Homo sapiens: one gene and its partners. The protein of the gene in region 4 interacts with the protein of the main gene of each other region in a pairwise test. Each region holds a gene or a part of one and is shown on either strand. Other genes may lie near its edges.

Evidence for each region. The genes of interacting proteins can lie anywhere in the genome.
Region 1: the proteins of LITAF (region 4) and STAM2 interact in a two-hybrid assay, tested with the Homo sapiens proteins (4 studies listed by BioGRID and IntAct).
Region 2: the proteins of LITAF (region 4) and KCNIP1 interact in binary tests that used the Homo sapiens proteins (3 or more experiments, as listed by UniProt).
Region 3: the proteins of LITAF (region 4) and RASSF1 interact in binary tests that used the Homo sapiens proteins (3 or more experiments, as listed by UniProt).

What each region holds. Positions count from the first base shown.
Region 1 is NC_000002.12:152,127,264-152,130,763, reverse strand, and holds part of STAM2 (signal transducing adapter molecule 2), read left to right. Parts: intron 1-3,500.
Region 2 is NC_000005.10:170,510,520-170,514,019, reverse strand, and holds part of KCNIP1 (A-type potassium channel modulatory protein KCNIP1), read right to left. Parts: intron 1-3,500. UniProt on the Homo sapiens protein: Regulatory subunit of Kv4/D (Shal)-type voltage-gated rapidly inactivating A-type potassium channels. Regulates channel density, inactivation kinetics and rate of recovery from inactivation in a calcium-dependent and isoform-specific manner.
Region 3 is NC_000003.12:50,338,037-50,342,005, forward strand, and holds the start of RASSF1 (ras association domain-containing protein 1), read right to left. Parts: upstream 2,801-3,969; 5' UTR 2,770-2,800; coding exon 2,520-2,769; intron 1,171-2,519; exon of another isoform or gene 1,058-1,170; intron 265-1,057; exon of another isoform or gene 1-264. Other genes in the region: ZMYND10 (zinc finger MYND domain-containing protein 10), read right to left, coding at 3,374-3,449, 3,538-3,663, 3,774-3,895. UniProt on the Homo sapiens protein: Potential tumor suppressor. Required for death receptor-dependent apoptosis. Mediates activation of STK3/MST2 and STK4/MST1 during Fas-induced apoptosis by preventing their dephosphorylation.
Region 4 is NC_000016.10:11,552,420-11,555,919, reverse strand, and holds part of LITAF (lipopolysaccharide-induced tumor necrosis factor-alpha factor), read left to right. Parts: intron 1-2,230; coding exon 2,231-2,387; intron 2,388-3,500.

The DNA of each region.
Region 1 (3,500 bases), on a different chromosome or scaffold from region 4:
GCCTCCCAAAGTGTTGGGATTACAGGTGTGAGCCACTGCACCCAGCCTTATGCCCAGCTTTTTTTTTTTTTAAAGACAGGGTCTTGCTGTGCTGCCCAGGCTGGTCTCAAACTCTTGGCCTCAAGTGATCTTCCTGCCTCAGCTTCCCAAAGTGCTGGGATTATAGGCATGAGCCACTGTGCCTGTCCCTTATTGTCCTTTAAAAATAGGAGCGGCCAGGCGCAGTGGCTCAAGCCTGTAATCCCAGCACTTTGGGAGGCCGAGGCGGGTGGATCATGAGGTCAGGAGATCGAGACCATCCTGGCTAACATGGTGAAACCCCGTCTCTACTAAAAATACAAAAAATTAGCCGGGCGTGGTGGTGGTGGCCTGTAGTCCCAGCTACTCGGGAGGCTGAGGCAGGAGAATGGCGTTAACCCAGGAGGCGGAGCTTGCAGTGAGCCGAGATCTCGCCACTGCACTCCAGCCTGGGCAAAAGAGCAAGACACGGTCTCAAAAAATAAATAAATAAATAAAAATAAAATAGGAGCAACACTGAAGGGGGTAGACTTTCAGGGTTTTGAGCTTTTAACTTGGTTCTGCTCCCTTATTTCTCAGCTCTCTATCTGAAGTCATAGGGAGAACCTGTAGTGAAAGGAAAACAAGGGATAGGGCTTAGTATTCCATCATCATCCCTTTCTAGTGGTATTTATTGAATTAATATATAAGCAGCACAAGAAGAAAAGATTAGATAGGACCAAAATAAGAAGGAGAATATAAACTACTTCTTTTCTGCCTCTGCCAGAGAAGTGCAGTAGCAGCAGGACTTTTCCTAGTCACCAGAGATTGTCGTCTTTGTTCCAGGGGACATTTTAAAAATAAATTTGTTGTGTTTTCTAAAGAAATGAAAAATCTGTGTGGCAATTAACAGTAGTTTTGCCATATTTTAGAGAAAGCATTAAATATCTCGTTACACATCTACTTTGTTTCAATGCAGCATGTTAATGTTCAGTGAATAATCAAACTGGAAAAGATTAAAAAGTATTATGATAGATGTGGCTGTATGTTTAGTTCAGACACAATTTTTTTTAATTTTTTGTATTTTCAATTTGAAGTTGGTTGAGTGCACGGATGCAGAACCCATGGACATGGAGGGCTGAGTGTATGTCCACACATTCTACAATGGAAATCATTGTCCTTGATAATTATCCCTTGATATGAGCAGATATTATATAATGAAAAAAGGCAGAAACTATGACAATTTAATCTTATTTTTGGTTCATAAAAAGAATTTTGTTAAAGGAAAAGATCTAGAAGAATTAGAAGTCAGATTGAGGCCAGTGTGGGGGCTCACACCTATAATCCCAGCATTTCAGGAGGCTGAAGTGGGAGAATCATCTGAGCCCAGGAATTTGAGACCAACTTGGGTAATACAGTGAGACCCCATCTCTACAAAAAAATTTTTTAATGATTAGCTGGGCTTGGTGGTGTGCGCCTGTAGTCCCAGCTCCTCAAGAAGCTGAGGTGGGAAGATCACTTGAGCCTGGGAGGTCAAGGAGGCTGCAGTGAGCCACGGTTGCACCACTGTACTCCAGTCTGGGTGACACAGTGAGATCTGCTCTCAAAAGAAAAAAAAATCAAAGTGACCATTCTGATATTAGTTAATTTTTTGAGTGAGAACTCAACCATTAACCATTTTTCTTACCAGTTTCAGTTTTTGAATAGGCCAACTGGCATTTTTTCTTGTTCTATGGCCACAGCTGCAGATGCAGCTCCTGTTCTGGGAAATGTTTCCTGTTCTTCAACAAATTCTTATTGACTATTATTTACCCTTGTCAAGTATTCAAAGATGAATAAAATATCCTTTTTTCCCTTGAATGGATCATGTTTGTTATTCCTACTAAGAAAAACATCTCTACTGTTAGAAAGTTAAATTGTACATTTCATTTTTGTCATTGTACAGAATGAAATTTTGTAGCATTTTATCAGCCTAAGAAATTATATTGAGTAAACATGTAAATTGACTCCATAAAAGTTTAGGTAGATTTGTTGAAGAGAGATTCATAGTCTGGACTTAACTATGTTCCAGACTATTCTAATCTTATTTCCTCCTGTCCTCCAAAGGTAATTTTCTACCACCTGATCAAGTTGCTCTTTTGCCTTATTACTCTGGGATTGTGTCTCAAATCTTTAAGGGGATTTCAAACACAGTGATCATGTCTTTCTACTGCATTTTCCTGGTGTTTCATCAGCATGCTGGGTTTTGTGGATCAAATTCCTACGGTTACATTTTAGTTATGCATTTGTTAGCATGGCACTAATTTCTGTAGCTTTCTGGGTGACTTGTAACTGATTTTTTTTTTTTTTAATTTGAGACAGAGTCTCGCTCTGTTGCCCAGGCTGGAGTGCAGTGGTGCAATCTCGGCTCACTGTAACCTCCGCCTCCTGGGTTCACACCATTCTCTTCCCTCAGCCTCAGCCTCCCGTGTAGCTGGGACTACAGGTGCCCGCCACCACACCTGGCTAATGTTTTGTATTTTTAGTAGAGACGGGGTTTCACCGTGTTAGCCAGGATGGTCTCGATCTCCTGACCTCGTGATCTGCCTGCCTCGGCCTCCCAAAGTGCTGGGATTACAGGCATAAGCCACCGCGCCCGGCCTGATATTTTTGATAATAGAGTTTGACCTGCTTAATGCAGTCATTCTTACCAGAGAGAGAAGACTTTTCGTTGTTGTAGTTCAGACATAACAGACTCTAGTAGAGGAAAAGTGACAAATCTTGATAGGACTCAGTCCAGGCTATTTACTTGGTAGTCCTGTGTCTGTCTGTGTGCCTCTGCTTGTTGCCTCTCTGTGTTTATGTAGAAAGAACCACATTCAGTAAAAAGGCTTGTGGATGTTTCAGGCCAGATGAAAAGTGGTTGCTTAGCTTTTGTAAATTTGACAGTGCAAAGAGAGTTCTTTATTACTCCCAGGGGAACTATCAAGTAGAAAGAGTTTGCTCTGAAGCTTCTTGGGCAAATTTGAAGATGCTTTTATTTGGGTTTGTTGTTATTACATAATAAAGCATTGGTTTACTTTCTCAAAATCAACCAACCAACAAATGAGCTGTAGAGATTAGTCTTACTTACACATTGTTTTTACTTGGATTTTCAAGGATAATTATTTAAGTAGGTTTTTTTTTTTTCAGTTGACACTTTCATGGATATAAACAAATGAAAATGTGTGTGTGTGGTTTTTTTTTAACAAGTGTTTTTAAATTTCCATCATATTGTACTTCATAGAGGTTCTGAGCCTTGCCTGGGTACTTTCTTTTATTGAGATTTTTAATTAAGGCCCAGATTCTTACCCAAATTGAGAATTTTCTTTTTAATAATTGAATTCTCAACAAAAAACCTAGAATGTGTGAAAGTAAATTCTCTCAGCACCGAAATTATGAATTGATTGCATTTTATGAGGTGTGGAAGGACTTTTCCCTAATATTATAAAGTCATATTGTCACCAGTAGAGGATTGTGACTGC
Region 2 (3,500 bases), on a different chromosome or scaffold from region 4:
TCCTTGCTTACTAATCACTAGCCAATCAAGAACCTCCCTGCATCTACGTTTCCTACTCTGCAAAGTGAGAATAATAATGAAACCATTACAGGACTCCTACAAAAATAAAAAGATTACTTTTTTGGGGGATCCCCACCAACAGAGAGGTCCTACTAGACCCCCTGGAAAAGGCATTTGACTTTCATTCCCCAGGCCCTACCTGTGTCTGTTTAGACTCCTACTTTAGTCACATTTTCTGGCTTCAAATCCCACACAAAGGCTCTGTATGTAAACCAGGCTGCCATCCTGCTCTGGGATTCTGAACATTATCAGTGAAATCCATTATGCAGGCAAGTCTCTAGTTGCAGTCCACATGGCTCTGTCCTGCACCCTGTTCTGGCCCATGTTCTTAGAAGCAACTTAGATAAAGACCTAGAATGCCTCCTTATCATTTCTTCAGGTAGCAGAAAACTTGGAGGTACAGCTAAGATGATGGCTGGTGGAGTCAAGATTCAGGATCTCTGTTGGCTGGAATAACATTTAAAATGAGTAAACTAAAACTTAATGGGCGTACATCATCCTGCACTTCTTTGTTGTTAAAAAGAAAGAGAGAGAAAGAAAAACAGACAAGCTTGATTGCAGAAATGCAAATCTGGAAATCTGACTTCTTAACAATTTATATGAGATGACCAGGGCTGGGGTTCGGATGTCAGGCCTAACACTTGAGCTGTGTGATTGTGGGCAAACCACTCACCTTCTCTGGATTCTATTTTCTTATTTGTAAAATGAGGCTTAAATCAGAAGTCTTAGCAAAAGCCTCTTCTGGCTTGATATATAATTTTGTGTAATACAATACACATAGTTCCATAATCTGTACTTTAGGCCAGTATTCCTCAGACTCCAGTGGGCATATAAACCATCTGGTGATCTTGTTAAAATGCAGGTTCTGACTGGGTAGGTCTCACTGAGTTGAGGTTTTTTTTTTTTTTCCAAGATGGAGTCTCGCTCTGTCGCCCAGGCTGGAGTGCAGTGGCGCGATCTCGGCTCACTGCAAGCTCCACCTCCTGGGTTCACGCCATTCTCCTGCCTCAACCTCCCGAGTAGCTGGGACTACACGCGCCCGCCACCACGCCTGGCTAATTTTTTTGTATTTTTAGTAGAGACGGGGTTTCACCGTGTTAGCCGGGATGGTCTCTATCTCCTGACCTCATGATCCGCCAGCCTCGGCCTCCCAAAGTGCTGGGATTACAGGCGTGAGCCACCGCGCCTGGCCGGGACTCTGTATTTCTAACAAGCTCCCAACTGATGCTGAGGCTGTTGGTTGGAGGAGCACACTTTAAGTGGAGTAGACCCAGATAGTAACAATTTACCTTTAGCGCATTCTGAGTGCTGACCGCTGCATCTTACATGCATGACTGCATTTAATCCTCATAACAACCTGGGAGGGAATTATCAACAATACTTTCATTTTCTAGATTATGTAGAGATGAAAGTTCACAGAAGCGAGGTAACCTGCTCAATGTCACACAGCTAATGAGTTGCAGAGCCAGGATTTGAATTCTAGGTCTGCCTAACCAGGAGTGTATGCTCATAACAACCGTATAACATACGCAGGTGATTTGGGCCAACATGTGGCTAAGGAGAGAAAGGAGATGAGCAGTAAGGTACTTGCAAATGTACTAGCAAGTTCTTGTGTTTTTTTCTTAGCAGTGATAACCACTTGTAAACCGACTGATCTCCTTGCCCACCTGGACCGTGTGAAAACTCTGATCCTGGTCCCTGGTTCTGAACGTTTGCAATTCTAACATACTTGGAAGATATTTAAACACTCTATCTTCACTGACAGGCAATGATGGCTATAACAAAGAGAGAAAATTTTAGTTCACATAAATGATTAGAGCAGAGGAGAGATGTTTAATCCTATTAATGAATTTGCTAATTGGCCTTCTGCCCCCAATCATTTCATATTCAGGCTTCCACAGTGTCAGATGAAATGGAAACAGATCTAGGGGGAGGCGGGGTTGGGATGGGGCTAAAAGCATTTTGCTCAGGGCCTGCACGTAGCTCAGTTGTTCCGTGTGGCTAATGAGGTGCTTCAGTCTATCCTTGAATGCCTTCTCCCCAACATCCATGCACCCGTTTTGACTGTTTTTCTACTCAGGTCCCTAAGGTTCCAGAGGCAAAGCCAGGAGGAGAGGAGGTTAGTATGGCAGTTAGAAGCTCAGGGTCTGGGATCAACCAGAACCAGGCTCTGCGATTCCCAAGCTCTATGACCCTTAGTAAGGCACTTCCCTTTTTAGAGCCTCAGGTTCCTCAACTGCAAAATGAGAACTGTAATAGCATCTTGTCCTCCAGGGTTGGGGTTAATAAAATAACACAGGAAAGAGCCGAGCAAGGTGCCTGGCACTGGGTGGAGGCCAGAGTCATTTGAGCTAGTATTATTATCCTTCCTGGCGGGTGACCTGCATTTTCATACCTCACTGTTGGGAATTGCTTTTACCATCTAAAGTTGACAGCTTCCCTTAGGAATCACCAGAGAAACTGCTTAGAATGCCAGTGACCATGGATATGGTGGCTCGGGATCTCAGAGGGCTGGAATCAGAGGCCACAGCTCAAAGGGATGGGGAGATTACCAAGGGTAACACCGTCATCATCCAAGTGGAGCAAGGCAGAAGGAAGGGGCCTGTCCTGAGATGGGACAAAAGGCAGCAGCAAAGCCAGCACTGCCAACTCACCTGGTGTGCAGCACCATGTTCAATTCCTTCTTGGCCCTCACGTGGCCCTATAGGGAGACACTGTCATTGTCCCCATTTTTTAATTTTTATTTTTTTTGAGACGGAGTCTCGCTCTGTCATCCAGGCTGGAGTGCAATGGTGCAGTCTTGGCTCACTGCAACCTCCGTCTCCTCGGTTCAAGCGATTCTCCTGCCTCAGCCTCCTGAGTGACTGGGATTACAGGAGCATGCCACCATGCCCGGCTAATTTTTGTATTTTTAGTAGAGATGGGGTTTCACCATATTGGCCAGGCTGGTCTTGAACTCCTGACCTCGTGATCTGTCCACCTTGACCTTCCAAACTGCTGGGATTACAGATGTGAGCCACCATACCTGGCCCACTGTCCCCATTTTATAGAAGAGGAAACTGAGGCCTGGAAAGGCTCAGCTATGAACCAATGAAAGGGAGTTCAATCCCAAGACTCTTATTTTAACGCGGTGCTCATAGCCATAATGCAATCCTACTTCTAGCTTCCTGATTTGAGTGGAATGTGGTTCCTACTTCCCCCCACCGCACCAATGAGGCTTTTAGTCTGGCCTTGAATAACAAGATTTAATCCAAAGTACTACTCCCATGGCTGGGGTACGGGAAGCTAGCAATATCCCAACTGACTACCACTACTTCCAGAAGGTGACCTATTTAAAATACTACCCGGAGGAAGGGGAAGCATTTAAAGAGATGTTTCTCTGAAGGCCCTAGGACTCTTAGGCTCTCTCTCTCTTTTCTAAAAACTGTTCCTTCCCTGCC
Region 3 (3,969 bases), on a different chromosome or scaffold from region 4:
GGAGGAGCTCCAGGTCGGGGAAATGTCCCGGAGATTGAAGGGAAGCCCCAGGGAGAGGGCCGCTGCTCGCCAGGCTCCGCAGGCCCGACCTATCTCAGTGGGTTACCTCACACTGCTACGCGGACTCTAATGTTGGCCACCTGGGCGTCTGGAAACCGGCCGGAAGGCCACAGGCAGAGAGGCCTGCTCAACAGTTGGATCTCTATCGCCTAGCACAGAACTTCCCCTTTCCTCATTGGCAATTAAAAAAACAACAACAAAAAACTGCGTCTTGCTTTTGTCACCCAGGCTGGAGTGCAATGGCGCGATTTCGGCTCACCGCAACCTCCGCCTCCTGGGTTCAAGCGATTCTTCTGCCTCAGCCTCCTGAGTACCTAGGATTACAGGCGCCCGCCACCATGCCCAGCTAATTTTTGTATTTTTAGTAGAGACGGGGTTTCACCATGTTAGCCAGGCTGGTCTCAAACTCCTGATCTCAGGTGATCCACCCGCCTCGGCCTTCCAAAGTGCTGGGACTACAGGCTTGAGCCACCGCACCCGGCCCTTCACTGGGAACGTATATGGAATACATCTGCCCATTTACTTGAAGGAAAAACTAAACACCTTTAACCTACGTCTGCCCTGTGGTTGTCACCTGTCTCTACTCCCCTCAGACCAAGACACTGGTCTCTATACACTCTAATCCTTCGCCTTCACTCTCCCCTCTACCCACTCCAGCCAGGCTTGCCTCTTCCTCCAGGAAACTGCCCGGGACAGGGTCCTCAGCGATCTGTGTACTACCAAATGGAATCCAGTGTTCCATTCTCCATTCTCACCCCCTCAGCATCATTTGAAGCTTGCTCCCTTTGACTCCCAGGGGCTACACTCTCCCAGTTTTCCTCCTACCCCCTGCAGCTCCTGCTCAGCTCCTTTGCAGATTCTGACTCAACTTCCATATCTCACGATGAAGTCTGGGCTCAGTCCTGATCACTGGCCTGGTCTGTCTACATTCATCTGCCCCAGATCCACGGCTGAAACACTGACCTAAACCCTCAGACTAGATCCTCCGTGCCAGTACCTTCACTAGGATGTCTAAAAGACGTTTCAAGTGAACATGGCCAAAATTTAATTCCCTTTTCTTCAGCCTCACTGCTACACTTGCCCAGCTTCCTCTTTGCAGCAAAAATGGCCACTAGGCTCCCAGTTACTGGAGACAAAAGCCCAAACTTATCTTTGATTTCTCCCTTGTCTCTACCTCTGATAAACATGCCCAAATCATCCTGCTTCTTATCTCCATGGCTACTTTATTTCTCTTTGAGAACGCTGCAATGTCCCAGCCTTGTTCTTTTTTTTTTTTTTTTTTTTTTTGAGACAGAGTCTCACTCTGTCGCCAAGGCTGGAGGGCAGTGGCACGATCTCGGCTCACTGCAACCTCCGCCTCCTGTGTTCAAGCAATTCTCCCACCTCAGCCTCCCGAGTAGCTGGGATTACAGGCACCCGCCACTACGCCTGGCTCATTTTTTTTTATTTTTTAGTAGACATGAGGTTTCACCATGTTGGCCAGGCTGGTCTTGAACTCCTGACCTCAGGTGATCCACCCGCCTCCGCCTTCCGAAGTGCTGGGATTACAGGCATGAGCCACCGCGCTCGGCCCCTTGTTCATTCTTTGCATTCTGTCACAACTTTGTGCTCCCCCCAGCTGAATTTGTGATGTCCTCTTGTACCGGATGAGAGGGTCTCCATGCACACACAGACCTGGGACACTATCCATCCACAAGTTCCTAAATAGGCCAGAGCAGTGATGCTCAACCCAGACTCCATGTTACAATAATTTGGGGAGTTTTTAAAATTTACTGATGCCTAGGGTCCACTCCCAGCAGTTGATTCAACAGGTCTGCGGTGGGATCCAGGCTAGCGGGGAGGACTGTAAAAGCACCCCTGGTGATTCCAGCTGGTGTCTACCCAGGGGAGAGCAACCTTTGCTTGCTGGCGATTCCCAGGGGTGCAGAAGGACTGCTGGGTGTGTGGCTGCGTGCATATTTTAGCATCTGATTCACTGGGTCAGAAAAGGGTGTTTGCTAAATAAAGACTCAACAAAACTCCTGCTTGCAGGGGGCCCACCAAAGGTTCTAAATTTTTCCAGGCTCCCTCCCATAGGTGGTAATTTCCCTTCACCCTAAAGGTTCTGGAGGGGGTCATGAGTGTTTGAGAAGAGGCAAGCCTGGGAAGATGGACTCCGAGGACAGTAGGCACAAACCCTTTCTCAAGAAGGGCCAAGGCATTTTAAAGATAAGAAACTTAAAATCAGCGTATTTTTACATATAAGCAGCCACCTCTGCTCATCTGTGGCCCAGATACGAGTGGAGTGCGACAAGGGATAAACCATTTTCGCGCACTCTTCAGCGATGGGGCGAAAGTAACGGACCTAGTCCTCGGGAGCTGTCCCCGCCGACCCCCTCTGCCGCGACTTGACCCGCGGCGACTGCGCTGCCCCTTGGCTGCCCCTTCCGCTCTCGTAGGCGCGCGGGGCCACTACTCACGCGCGCACTGCAGGCCTTTGCGCACGACGCCCCAGATGAAGTCGCCACAGAGGTCGCACCACGTGTGCGTGGCGGGCCCCGCGGGCTGGAAGCGGTGGCCACGGCCAGGGACCAGCTGCCGTGTGGGGTTGCACGCGGTGCCCCGCGCGATGCGCAGCGCGTTGGCACGCTCCAGCCGGGTGCGGCCCTTCCCAGCGCGCCCAGCGGGTGCCAGCTCCCGCAGCTCAATGAGCTCAGGCTCCCCCGACATGGCCCGGTTGGGCCCGTGCTTCGCTGGCTTTGGGCGCTAGCAAGCGCGGGCCGGGCGGGGCCACAGGGCGGGCCCCGACTTCAGCGCCTCCCCCAGGATCCAGACTGGGCGGCGGGAAGGAGCTGAGGAGAGCCGCGCAATGGAAACCTGGGTGCAGGGACTGTGGGGCCCGAAGGCGGGGCTGGGCGCGCTCTCGCAGAGCCCCCCCCGCCTTGCCCTTCCTTCCCTCCTTCGTCCCCTCCTCACACCCCACCCCGGACGGCCACAACGACGGCGACCGCAAAGCACCACGCGGAGATACCCGTGTTTCTGGAGGCCAGCTTTACTGTGCTAGAGGAAGAGGGTCCCCACATCCGGCCCTGGCCCTCCTGGTCCGGTTTGCTGAAGCAACACACTTGGCCTACCCACTGGGTGGGGCAGGAAGTCTCGAGCCTTCACTTGGGGTGAGGAGGAGGGAGATCGGTCAGCAGCTTTACCGCCCGCTCTGCTCTCCACTGCGGAGACTGGGGCTCCGGCAGAGGCTGGACCGTGATCTTGAGGTTCAGGGGTGCATTCTGGGTGGATTCCCTTGGCATGGGTGGTCGGCCCTCAGCAACTGCAGCCCTCATTTGGCTCTGTCACCCTGGGCTGCCAGGACACAAGTCTTTCCATGCTTTTCCCAGTGCTTGACTTGGCACTCCCTGCAGGCAGGTGGGTATTGAGGATGGCAATGCATGTGGGGGATGTGGGAGTAGGGCTTAGAGGTCCAAGGTTCTAGGATACCCTCACCTGCAGCAATACCACTCATTCTGGCATCGTGAGCAGCGCTTAGAAGCCTCTGCACTGCAGTAAGCACAGCGGGGCCGCTCTGGAGCCACTGCCTCTAGCACATCCAGCCTGTAGGTCTCAGCCCACCTGGGGGAAAGTCAGGAAGGTCTGACTGGCCCTGGAAGGTGGGGGCACCCCACCCACATCCATGCCTCCTGCATCCCCTCCACCCTCCCTGCCATTTCCACAGGCCTTACCTTCGCGCCTGCAGCCGCAGGTCCTGCTCTGAGGGGCTGAACACATGCTGGAGCTGGTGCTTGGCAATTGCCTGCCACTTGCCTCTGTTTTCTCGCTCCAGCCGCTCCCAGATTTCTGGGATCTAGGAGAGAGAAGTGGAGAGTGGCAGGAAGGTGCTGGTAAAGTGGGACAGTGGTCCTGAGCAGCTAACTTTCC
Region 4 (3,500 bases):
TTCACATAACCTCCTTGTGCCTCAGCTTCCCCATTTGTAAAATAGGTTTCATCAAGTACCTATTTATAAATATCAGTGAGTTGTTAACATGAGAGGAAGTTGTGTGTGCCAAATACAGAGTACTCGTTTGATAAAAGTGAACTCTTATTGTTGTGTTCAAGTTATTTTGAGCTGGAAGAGGATGAGATAATGACTTTAGATTCTTAGACCATCCTGTGATCAATAAATAGTTTCTTTTTCTTTTTCTTTTTTTTTTTTTTTGAGACAGGGTCTCACCATGTTGCCCAGGTTGGAGTGCAGTGGTGCAGTCATGGCTCGCTATAGCCTGGACCTCCTGGGCTCAAGTGATCCTCCCACTTCAGTCTCTGGAATAGCTGAGACTACAGGCATACAGCACCACACCTGGCTAATTTTTAAATTTTTGTGTAAATCGGGTCTCACTGTTTTTCCAGGCTGATCTTTAACTCCTGAGCTCAAACGATCTTCCCACCTCCCTTGGCCTCCCAAAGTGTTAGAATTATCAGCATGAGTCACAGAGCCTGGTCCAAATAACTTATTCTTGAACCCCAAAAACACTTAATAAAATGTATGAACAGGGTGTGGTGGCTTGCGCCTGTAATCCTAGCTACTGAGGAGGCTGAGGCAGGAGGATCACCTGAGGCCAGGAGTTCCAAACCAGCCTGAGTGACATAGTGAGACATTGTCTCTATGAAAATAAAATTAGCTGAGTGTGATGGCTTGTACCTGTAGTCCCAGCTACTTGGGAGGCTGAGGTGGGAGGATTGCTTAAGCCCAGGAGGTTGAGGCTGCAGTGAGCTATGATTGTACCCCTGCACTCCAGCCTGGGCAACACAACAAGACCTTGTCCCCCCTGCCAAAAAAAAATTACACGTAAGTGCTAAAGTATGATTTAATACTACTTTTCTGGAAGGAGGGTCTTTCTATGAGTATTACTAAGTTCAGTTAACTCTAGGCAGTAATTTCCCCCTAATTCATTTGTTATATAAATGACATTCTAACGTAAAAAGGAACAGAAGGAAGTTGCTTTAACAAAAATATGAGCTTAACAACTGAAGTGCTTGATGATTTTCATCACCCTGGGTTCTCTCTTTTTTTTTTTTTTTTTTTTTTTGAGGTAGAGTCTTGTTCTGTTGCCCAGGCTGGAGTGCAGTGGCATAATCTCGGCTCACTGCAACCTCTGCCTCCCAAGTTCAAGCAATTCTCCTGCCTCAGCCTCCCAAGTAGCTGGGACTACAGGCACGTGCCATCATGCCCGGCTAATTTTTGTCTTTAGAAACAGGGTTTCACCATGTTGGCCAGGCTGGTCTTGAACTCCTGACCTCTGGTGATCCACGCACCTCGGCCTCCCAAAGCCAAGGGATTTGCTGGGATTACAGGTGTGAGCCACCGTGCCCGGCCTGGATTCTCTTCTGATTCTTGAGAATGTTCGAACATGTTTTCACATAGCTTTTTCTTCCTAGCATTATTTTATATTTTCATTTCTTGTATCAACACAGTTCACTAGCTTGTTGTCTTACAGAGTTGGCCTGCGTTTCCTGGCTTGGTAAACTCTACCCTTATCATTGGCTGTCAGAGTTTATCAAAGGGTTTGTGTAAAGAGAGTGGATTATTTATCAAGAGCTGCTAGGCACAGTGTGAGGCTGGTTAAAATTTATTTATTTGTTTTTGGGACTGAGCGTCGCTCTGTTGTCCAGGCTGGAGAGCAGTGGCGCAATCATGATTCACTGCATCCTCAATCTCTCAGACTCAACTGATCCTCCCACCTCAGCCTCCTGAGTAGCTGGGACTACAGGCGTGTACTCCCACGCTGGGCTAATTTTTATATTTTTTTGTAGAGATGAGGTCTTGTCATGTTGCCTAGGCTGATCTCAAACTCCTAGGCTCAAGCAGTCCTCCCACCTCGGCCTCCCAAAGTGTTGGGATTACAGGCATGAGCTACCGCGCCCGGTCCTCCTTTCTTTTTGAGGCTGAATCATATTCTGGTGGATGGATAAACTTCGCTGTGTTAGTTTATTGGTCCGTCGATGGACACTGGTGTTCCTTCCCCTTTTGGCTCTCATAGATAGCCAGACGATGAACGCATGCTATGAACACAAATGTACAAATATAATATTTGCTGGCATCCCTGCGTTCCTCTCTTTGTCCTGTAGTGAATGCTATTGGCCTTGTTTCCTGAGCAACCTGTGTTTGTCCCTCTCCCTTTCATCAGTTACCGTGCAGACGGTCTACGTGCAGCACCCCATCACCTTTTTGGACCGCCCTATCCAAATGTGTTGTCCTTCCTGCAACAAGATGATCGTGAGTCAGCTGTCCTATAACGCCGGTGCTCTGACCTGGCTGTCCTGCGGGAGCCTGTGCCTGCTGGGGTGAGTCTGCCTCCCACTTGGCCCCAAGCCATCCTGCCCTTCTCTCTGGGTGCTGGCGGGGGTGGGTTCTCAACTGCACCATGCTTGACATTCAGGGCCAGACATTTGTGTTGTTTTTTTTTGAGATGGAATCTGGTTCTGTCGCCCAGGCTGGAGTACAGTGGGGCGATCTCGGCTCACTGTAACCCCCACTGCTCAGGTTCAAACGATTCTCCTGCCTTAGCGTCCCGTGTAGCTGGGATTATAGGGGTGCACAACCACGCCCAGCTTATTTTTAGTAGAGCTGGCATTTCACCATCTTGGCCAGGCTGGTCTCAAACTCCTGACCTCAGGTGATCTGCCCACCTTGGCCTCCCAAACTGCTGGGGTTACAGGTGTGAGCCACTGTGCCTGGCCTAAGGCATTTCTTTCTTTTTTTGTGATGGATTCTCACTCTGTTGCCCAGGCTGGAGTGCAGTAGCACGATCCCGGCTCACTGCAACCTCCGCCTCCCAGGTTCAAGCTATTCTCCTGCCTCAGCCTCCTGAGTAGCTGGGATTACAGGTGTGCACCGTCAGGCCCGGCTAATATTTTGTACTTTTAGTAGAGATAGGGTCTCACCATGTTGGCCAGGCTGGTCTCGAACTCCTGACCTCAGGTGGTCCACCCGCCTCAGCCTCCCAAAGTGCTGGGATTACAGGTGTGGGCCATCATGCCTGGCCCAAGACATTTCTTTATTGTAGGGGGTGTCCTGTGCATTGTAGGATATTGAATAGCATCCCTGGCCCCCACCCGCTTAATGCTAGGAGCACCACGCTCCCCAGTGTTCTGAACAAAAATGCCCCCTGGGAGGCCAAGTCATCCCTGCTGCTCTTAAGCGTATCCGTCCCCAGAAATTGGTCTTCCGTCTTTTCTTCTTGCTTATCTGCTGAAACCACGCCCTGCATGTAGGGACAAGCTTCACAGCTGCTTCCAGCTGTGTACAGGGCAATATCCTCAGGGATTCCTTTTTCTTCTAGAATTTCATGACCTAAATAATAATGTTTTGCTCGAGCCCGAGGGAAGCTTTAAAGAATCTGTACATTAAAATTCTTCATAGGAATTGCTTCAAAACTTCTTATCCTTTTATGACCC